Regions from separate parts of the Homo sapiens genome. Here all the other regions are linked to region 1. Evidence: fine-mapped QTL for protein levels in blood plasma. Region 1 holds a variant in brackets. A gene starts in each other region. All regions are shown on their reverse strands. Region 1 overlaps COPZ1 (coat protein complex I subunit zeta 1). Region 2 holds the start of HCLS1 (hematopoietic cell-specific Lyn substrate 1). Region 3 holds the start of CTF1 (cardiotrophin 1).

What was found. A credible set is the group of variants that fine-mapping cannot tell apart. PIP is the posterior inclusion probability: the model's chance that the variant is causal. The UK Biobank Pharma Proteomics Project read protein levels with antibody pairs (Olink). The fine-mapping took linkage between variants from a reference panel, not from the people measured, so its PIPs are less certain.
Region 2: HCLS1 starts here. The variant in region 1 is the best candidate, but not a certain one, in a credible set for the plasma level of the HCLS1 protein (UK Biobank, PIP 0.67).
Region 3: it holds the start of CTF1, and the variant in region 1 is the best candidate, but not a certain one, in a credible set for the plasma level of the CTF1 protein (UK Biobank, PIP 0.73).

Annotation. Positions count from the first base shown.
Region 1 is chr12:54,331,302-54,334,062 of GRCh38, reverse strand. All of the region lies in intron 1 of COPZ1 (coat protein complex I subunit zeta 1), which reads right to left. Among named protein-coding and RNA genes, the nearest start is that of MIR148B, 4.5 kb to the left of the region's middle. The variant T/C (reference allele first, on the strand shown) is at 1,372.
Region 2 is chr3:121,659,630-121,662,390 of GRCh38, reverse strand. It overlaps HCLS1 (hematopoietic cell-specific Lyn substrate 1), which reads left to right and starts at 1,488. Exons shown (of 14, transcript NM_005335.6): 1 at 1,488-1,571. RefSeq lists enhancers at 1,216-1,265, 1,456-1,645.
Region 3 is chr16:30,895,595-30,898,355 of GRCh38, reverse strand. It overlaps CTF1 (cardiotrophin 1), which reads right to left and starts at 1,742. Exons shown (of 3, transcript NM_001330.5): 1 at 1,688-1,742. The coding sequence starts at 1,712. RefSeq lists enhancers at 1,156-1,205, 2,069-2,572, 2,573-2,761.

The DNA.
Region 1 (2,761 bases):
GTGCAGTGGTGCCATCACAGCTCACTGCAGCCTCAACCTCCCAGGCTCAAGCGATCCTCCCCGTTCAGCCTCCCAAGTAGCTGACTACAGGTACATGCCACCACACCCTGCTAATTATTTCTGTATACACACAAGATTAGATTCAAAAAGCACAGCTCAGGAAAGAGTGGGAGCCACTGGTACCACAGAACACTACCCAGCTGACATGAGACCAAATATTGGTTATAAAGAAAAAACTCAACACATGACTCGGGAAGAACTGACGGCAGGAAGAGACACCTACAATCTTCCTATCTGACACAGACCCAAAACATGTAAAGCACAGTCAACAAGAGTTTTGATATTACAGGAGAAAATGTCTCTAAACTCCTACAATCCATCTCTTAAATAGAGACAGGGTCTTGCTATGTTGCCCAGGCTGGACCTGAACTCCTGGGCTCAAGGAGTCCTGCCTCAGCCTTCCAAATAGCTAGGACTACAGGCATGCACCACCATGCCTGGCTACAATACTTGTACTATAATGGGGATCAGCCATTAACTCAAATTTTCCCTTTCTCTGAGATTCAGCTTCTTCATCAGAGAAATGAGAGGCTTGACCTAGATCAGTTAAGGTTAATGCCTTTTTTGAGTTACAGCAGACCCCTTTGATAAACCAATTACATCTATGGACCTTATTCCCAGCAAAATACATTCACAAATTTTTTTATGATTTCATGGCTAGGCATGCTGGTTCCTACCTGTAATACCAGCACTTTGGGAGGCCAATGTGGGGACAAATAGCTTGAGCTCAGGAGTTTGAGGCCAGCCTGGGCAACATGGCGAAACCCTGTCTCTACTAAAAATACAAAAAAATTAGCTGGGCATGGTGGTGCATGCCTGTAATCCCAGCTATTCAGGAGGCTGAGGCATGAGAATTGCTTAAACCCCGGAGATGGAGATTGCAGTGAGCCAAGATCATCGCACCACTGCACTCCAGCCTGGATGACAGAGCAAGACTCTGTCTCAAAAAATATATATATAAATAAAAATAATTTTTTTATGATTTCAAAGAGTTCACAGAGCCGAGTTTAGAATTAAATGAGATTCTCTCTGGAGATAATAAGATGGTGTGGAGGGGGCAGGAAAAAGAGGGGAAATGAGTGATACTTTTGTAAACCACCCCCTCTACTCTACCTGGCATCCAGTAATGCTGGATAAATTCAATAAATGTGTGTGTGGCCTTCATAAATTAATAAATATGATTGAGAAAACTAACAGCCAGCAGGGGGAATAAAGGTCAGCAACCACGCTCCCTCCAGCTTTCTTTTTTTTTTTCCCTTTTTTTTTTTAAGACTGAGTTTCATTCTTGTTGCCCAGGCTGGAGTGCAATGG[T/C]GCAATCTCAGCTCACTGCAACCTCCACCTCCCAGGTTCAAGCGATTCTCCTGCCTCAGCCTCTCAAATAGCTGGCATTACAGGCACCCACCACCACACCTGGCTAATTTTGTGTTTTTAGTAGACAGGGCTTTGCCATGTTGGTAAGGCTGGTCTCGAACTCCTGACCTCAGGTGATCCGCCTGCCTCAGCCTCCCAAAGTGCTGGGATTACACGCGTGAGCTACCATGCCCAGCCACCTCCAGCTTTCAATGGCTGAATTTGATGACTGTGAAATGGGCAGGACAAAGACAACCAAACCCTAAGCTTTTTAGGAATGCAAAGTCTCAGGACCTTTCTCAAAACTCAGAAAGCCTGTCTGTTGGAAAATTTTTTTTTTTTGAGACGGAGTCTCACTCTGTCGCCCAAGCTGGAGTGCAGTGGCTCACTGCAACCTCCGCCTCCCGGGTTCACGCCATTCTCCTGCCTCAGCCTCCTGAGTAGCTGGGATTACAGGCGCGTGACACCATGACCGGCTAATTTTTGTATTTTTGGTAGAGACGGGTTTCACCATGTTGGTCAGGCTGGTCTCAAACTCCTGACCTCGTGATCCGCCCGCCTCGGCCTCCCAAAGTGCTGGATTACAGGCGTGAGCCACCGCGCCCGGCCTTGCTGGAGGATTTTTTACCCAGGGGTCACATAGTCCCTAATTCTTCAACTATCATGGAAGTGAAAGAATCACAGAAATGAGGGACAAAGCAGTACTGCTGGGAAGAGAGATGAACTGAATAAGGAGAAATCAGACTATACTCCAGACCTGAGGCCTGAGAGCACCATTAGAACATTCTGCCTTCTCAGTTTGGTAATCCAGGAGCCCTCACTTAAATAACACTCAGCAAAGGAAAAAAATCAAAAGGGGCTAGATCCATTCCTGATGAGTCCTGGGTCACGATTTGTATCATGATTTATCCCTTTACTCCCCCCCACATCTCCCTGCTTTTGCTCCTGAAAACAAAAAGCTAGTCTCTGAGAGACTGAATTGACAGACTCTGTGTTATCTTTCAGTCTATTTATGCCCCCAAATCAACCCCGAGGCAGAATTGCTCTATTCTCCTCTGGTTTTAGTCTCCCTCTAAAACCACACAACAGAAAAGGAGTTGCAGAAAATTAGTTGACCGAGCTATCCAGGGCAATTGGCTATGGATGGGATATCTGCATTGAGAGTGAGAAAATAGGCCGGGCGCAGTGGCTCACACCTGTAATCCCAGCACTTTGGGAGGCCAAGGCATGTGGATCACAAGGTCAGGAGTTCGAGGCCAGCTTGGCCAACATGGCGAAACCCCGTCTCTACTAAAAATACAAAAATTAGCCAGGCATGGTGGTGGGGGCCTGTAATCCCAACTACTCGGGA
Region 2 (2,761 bases), not on the chromosome of region 1:
AGTGGTTTAATTGAACCAAGTCTGTCTGGCTTCAAGGCCCATTCTTTTTCTGTGTGATACACCTCACTACCTCATCAGTAATGAACTTGTGACATTTGCTAAGGAAAGATGGGACTTCTTGGTGTCATCTCTGATTAATTTCTATATTTTCTCTAGAGAACTATGTACCTGGATGGTGTGTCACATCATCTAGTCTAAATCGTATTTTGACACTACATGAGGATTCCAAGTGATTTTTCTCTTGTACAAACGTACTCTTCCTTATCATAACTTTGGTACCACCATGATAAATAGGTAATAAAGTAGAAGGAATAAATAAAGCTCCCCCAGGCATAGAATCCTTAGATTTGGAAGTGACAGAGGCTTCATATTCCTAATGCAGAAAAGTGCCTGTATCATGGGCCAGTTTCATCCAGTCCTGCTTAAACTCCTTGGAGGATGCACCGTTGTGAACAAATCAAGAAGTCCACAATCAAGATTAGGAAAGGCTAGGTCAGATACAATAACAGACACCCTCAAATTCTCAGTAGCCAAAACAAAGGACTATTTTTTAGTGAAAGACTCCAATTCCCCCACATGGTGGATGGGGCTCCACTTGTGTTCTTTCTCACTCAGGGACCCAGTCTGCTGGAGGAGCCAATATGGAGAATTGCAGGTTGCCTTGGGCAGTGGTGAAAGCATGGCAAAGCTTGCAGTGGTCTTACGGCCTCCGCCAGAAAGTGGTATCTGTCACTGGCCAAAACAAGTCACCTGAGTAAGTCTGACTTCAAGAGGGAAGGGAGGGGCAGCAAGTCTTGACACGCAGTAAAACAGGATACCACAAAGACCTTCTTCCATCAGCTGACCAGCACCTGGTTCTTTCAGAATTCTTCCTACGCTCTAGAGCCAAATCTTTAGTTTGTTAGCTCAGACTCCACAGTGCCCCAAACAAGCTAGGAAACTCTCCTTCCATGTCTTGCCTTTTCCCTCATGAGTTATTCTCTTCTGGCATTCAATTGGTCGACGTTTATTTGAACATCTATATGAAAACTCCACTTTTAAGTGCTGTGGGTAATATAGGGGTGAGTTTCTTTTTAAGTCTTATGCTTCAAAACCCACATATAAATCACTTTTCCCATAAAGCCTTTCTTGATGAATACACCCAATACCAAATGCTCTGAATTCCTTTACTGTCTCAAATGTAACTGCCACCCTATTTAGGACACAATGCTGTTCTACAGCATTCTCTAATGTGTTTTCTGGTTGAATGTTTGTTTCTCTCACTGGATTACAAACTCAGAGTCAAAGCAGCATTTTCTATGACTGCTCTATGACCCCCATTGTCAAAACCTTGCAAAAGACCAGGCACAGAAACATTTAATCCTTTTAAAATTTAAGTGTCTAAAGCAGAAGGAACTGACTCAAATTTCAGGAAGTAGCTGTGAGGATGGGGTGGCAGGAAATGACGAAAACCTGAATACGGAACTGAAGCAGCAGCTCAGTTTCTCACTCCGAAGTGGCAGCAGCCAGAGAGGGAGTCGGTGTGGACGCGAGGAGCCGGGCGCTTAGAACAGAGGCTTGCACAGGTGGAGGTGGGTACTCTGAGCCATGGGACAGTTGGGAAACACAGAGTAAGAGTTGAGGAGGAACCTACCTGGCTCTTAGTCCTTGGTGATGGGCAAGGTCACCACTAGTAGGCTTTTATCCTTTTATGGCCAGAAGGCCTGGTTGTGAGTGGTTGTAGCAAATCAGCATCTGGAGATAGAAACAAAAGGGAGGGGCTTAAACCCAAGGCAAGTGTTTCAGGAGCCATCTAGCACCAACATCAAGCAAAGTGTTGCCTGGTTTCTGCTGACAATCTACAACCCACTCTAAGGCCTGTCTCCCCTAGGTACTGAGCTGGGAGGAGGACCACAGGAGACGAAAACAGTGTCTGCCCTTGAAGAGCATATGGTCTCAGGGAAACAAACCCACACAGGAAATGTAACAGATCAGGAAGTAGTCACTGATGTACACTAGCACTGAGTACCAAGTGCTGATGGAGCCCAAGAGAAGGCATGATTGTTCTGCTGGGGCTAGTTTCTGTGTTCGTAGATCACAGAATCTCAGAATGTCAGAAATCAAGGAGACCACAGATGAGCTACGTTAACCCCTTCATTATTTTCCACTGGGAAAATCAGAGATAATTGCTGATTTGCCAAATTATTAAAGTTAGTATTTCTTAATCGCCTGGTCTGATACCTGGCAAATGAGTACCTACTCTGTTGATGCCCTTGTGATGGTCCCTCAGAGGCTTAGTCACAGAGCTGGGGTGACAGCCAGGGCTTCTGACTCCCAGTCTGTGTACTTTGATGCAGGAGGTCAGCATCGCAACAAGGCCTCACCAGATTACTCTCTGGTTCTCACCTCTAGATAGCACTTCTTACCTTTCTGGTTTCTGGTCAATAGGTCAAGGATATTAGATAAATTGTCTCTATTTCAGAAACTCTTTATTTCAAAAATGGGTGAATGGGAGAGTCAGGCTGAGGCCTCAGAGGAGCCACAGGAAGGAGGATGGGACCATCAGTCCTCATTGCTTCCTTATTGCTCATGACTATTTCAGAAACTTCTCCATTCCAGTTTTCTGTGTGACAGTCCTTTTGTTGTTGCACAGCAGCCCAGGAGCCAGGGGATGAGAAGCAGAGGGGTAGTAAGGATGCAGGTAGTAAGGATGTTTTGCTGTCTCCAACCGCATCAGGGAAAGCCAAGCTGCTTTCAGCCATGACTCCCGGCTGACTCAGTC
Region 3 (2,761 bases), not on the chromosome of region 1:
ACCCTGTCTCTACTAAAAATACAAAAATTAGTCAGGCATGATGGTGGGTGCCTGTAATCCCAGCTACCAGGGGGCCTGAGGCATGAGAATCGCTTGAACCTGGGAGGAGGAGGTTGCATTGAGCTGAGATCAGGTCACTGCACTCCAGCCTGGGTGACAGACCGAGACTTCGTCTCAAAAAAAAAAAAAAAAATTGTCCAGGCGCAGTGGCTCACGCCTGTAATCCTAGCACTTTGGAGGGCTGAGGCAGGTGGATCACGAGGTCAAGAGATCAATACCATCCTAGCCAACATGATGAAACCTCATCTCTACTAAAAATACAAAAAAAAAAAAATTAGCTGGACTTGGTGGCACACGCCTGTAGTCCCAGCTACTTGGGAGGCTGAGGCAGGAGAATTGCTTGAACCCAGGAGGCAGAGGTTGCAGTGAGCCAAGGCCACTGCACTCCAGCCTGGCAACAGAGAAAGACTCCATCCCAAAAGAGAAAGAGAGAGAGAGAGAGAGACGGAGTCTTGCTCTTTCGCCCAGGATGGGGTGCAGTGGTGCAATCTTGGCTCACTGCAGCCTCGACCTCCTGGGCTCAAGCGATCCTCCCGCCTGGGTCTCCTGTGTAGCTGGGACTACAGGCATGCGCCACCATGCCCGGTTAATTTTTGTATTTTTTTGTAGAGACAGGGTTTCGCCATGTTGCCCAGGCTAAAAATGCATAGAATCTTATGGGACCTCCATTGTCTGTGCGGTCCACCTGTTGACCAAATGTTGTTATGCAGTGCATGACTGTACTGCCTCCTCAGTGAAGCCTCCAGAATCACTTCTCCTTTATAAACGAACTCCTTCCTTTGACTTAAGGCCATTTGCATGAGTTCCAGGGTAGCTCTTTTAACGGCTTTTCTGTGTGTATCTGCCTTAGCCTGAGAGCCCTTTGAAGACAGGGCTTACATATTTCTACCTCAGTGACTGCTAGTGGACTTCAACATCATCGAAGTACAGAACTTCATATCAAAATGTGCCTTGAAGGCCCATTTTACAGATAGGGAGACTGACTTCCATTTCCATTTCTCTCCCTGATGCCCCATCCATGCAAGGCGCTGGCCTGGCTAGTCAGCGAATCAAGGTCCGCAAGAGCCAGTGTCTGGCGCCCCGGGAGGGACTCCATTTCCCGAAACGCACAGCGCGCGCCCGATGCGTGCTGGGGAATGTAGTCCTGACCCGGTGCCCCGCCCCCGCCCCACCCCCGAAGTTTCCCAGCACCAGTCGCGATCCTCAGCAGCCCAGACTTTCGTCTCCTGTTGTCACTCACTACTTCCTGTGACTCCAAGACTGCCTTCCCTTACTCTACCCCTTCCTTCAGCCCCCCAGCTCTGATTCTTTCCCGAGACTCAGTGGACGCAGGGGTCCTGCCCCAGCCCCGACCCCAGTCCTCCCCCTGGGTGTACTCGAACCGGTGATCTAAGCCCTGAGCCCAGGTCCCTGAAACCTCAGCCCCAGGCCTCCTCTAAACCCTAGCGCCTGCTGTTTCTCACAACTCACCCGCTCACTCGTTACCTGACACCGGAGCCCTGCCCTTCCCCGCCAAGGCCGCTCCCCTCCCGGACCCGGGGGTGGCGGAAACCCAGACCCCCAGCTCCCAATCCCTCTGACTCCTGCGCCCCTCAGCGACCCGGCGTCCGGTCCCTCAGCCCCTTACCCAGACTTCCCTCCCTCCGGCTCATGCTGGCCCCTGGCTGATCCCGGCTCCCTTCACGCCCCCCTTTCGAGGGGGGAGAAAGGGGAAAGGGCTGGGGGCGTGGCCCGGGCGCAGCCAATCAGAGCCCAGACCCCAAACATTTCATCCTACCCCCCCTTTTGAGACAGGATTCCTTGGCCCTGAGCTCAGCTCCTCGTCCGTGGGGCCTAGTGGGGGAAGGGGCCCGAGGGGGAAGGCAAGTTGTCTGCCGGGTGGACAGGACCTCGGGGCTGGGGGTGTCAGGGCCTGGGAGGCAGCCCAATGTTCTGCCGCGGGCTCAGGCTTGGACCTGAGGCAGCGGCTGCTTTGGGTGTAAAGCTGAGGAGACAGGAGAGGGAACTGCCGGACTGGCAGGACAGGAATGCGCAGGCCCTCTCTCTAGTCTGGGGCGCGGCTTGCGAGGGAGGCTACGATGGGGGCCGTCAGGCTTGGGGCATGTTTGTCCAGACATACATCTCCTGGCCTATCTTAGATGGCTTCCAATCTCATTGTCACACCCACCAGGAGGGAGACAGATACACTGCTCTCCTCTTCTTAGCAGGCCTAGTAACAATCACACCCCGCCCCCCACCCCCAGGAGAACAAGCTACAGAGACCTGGACAGGAAGTCACACCCATACGTCAACCCCATTAACCTGGTGTAGACGGAAAGGAAGGCACATAGGGATGATCCATACTTGGTTTCTGGCCCCCGCGAGGGGCTCGCGGTCTGTCGAGGAAGCCCATAGACAACAGAAGCTAATGGGGTTTGTGAATGAAGACGAGGAGGCCCGTGTGTGTGTGCGCTTGCGTGTGTCTGCGTGTGTGCGTGCATGCGGACGTGTGTGCGTGTGAGCATGCGTGTGTGCGAGTGGATTTGTGTGCGTGTGAGTGTGCAGGTGTGCGCGTGTGTGCATGTGCGCGTGCATGTGTGTGCGTGTGTTCGTGTGAGTGGGTGTGTGTATTGCCGTGAGCAATTGCTGGAATAAAAGAAGAAAGAGTTTAACTGGAGAGGGCACAGCAGATAGAATTGAGCCAGACAATTGGTAGGGCCCA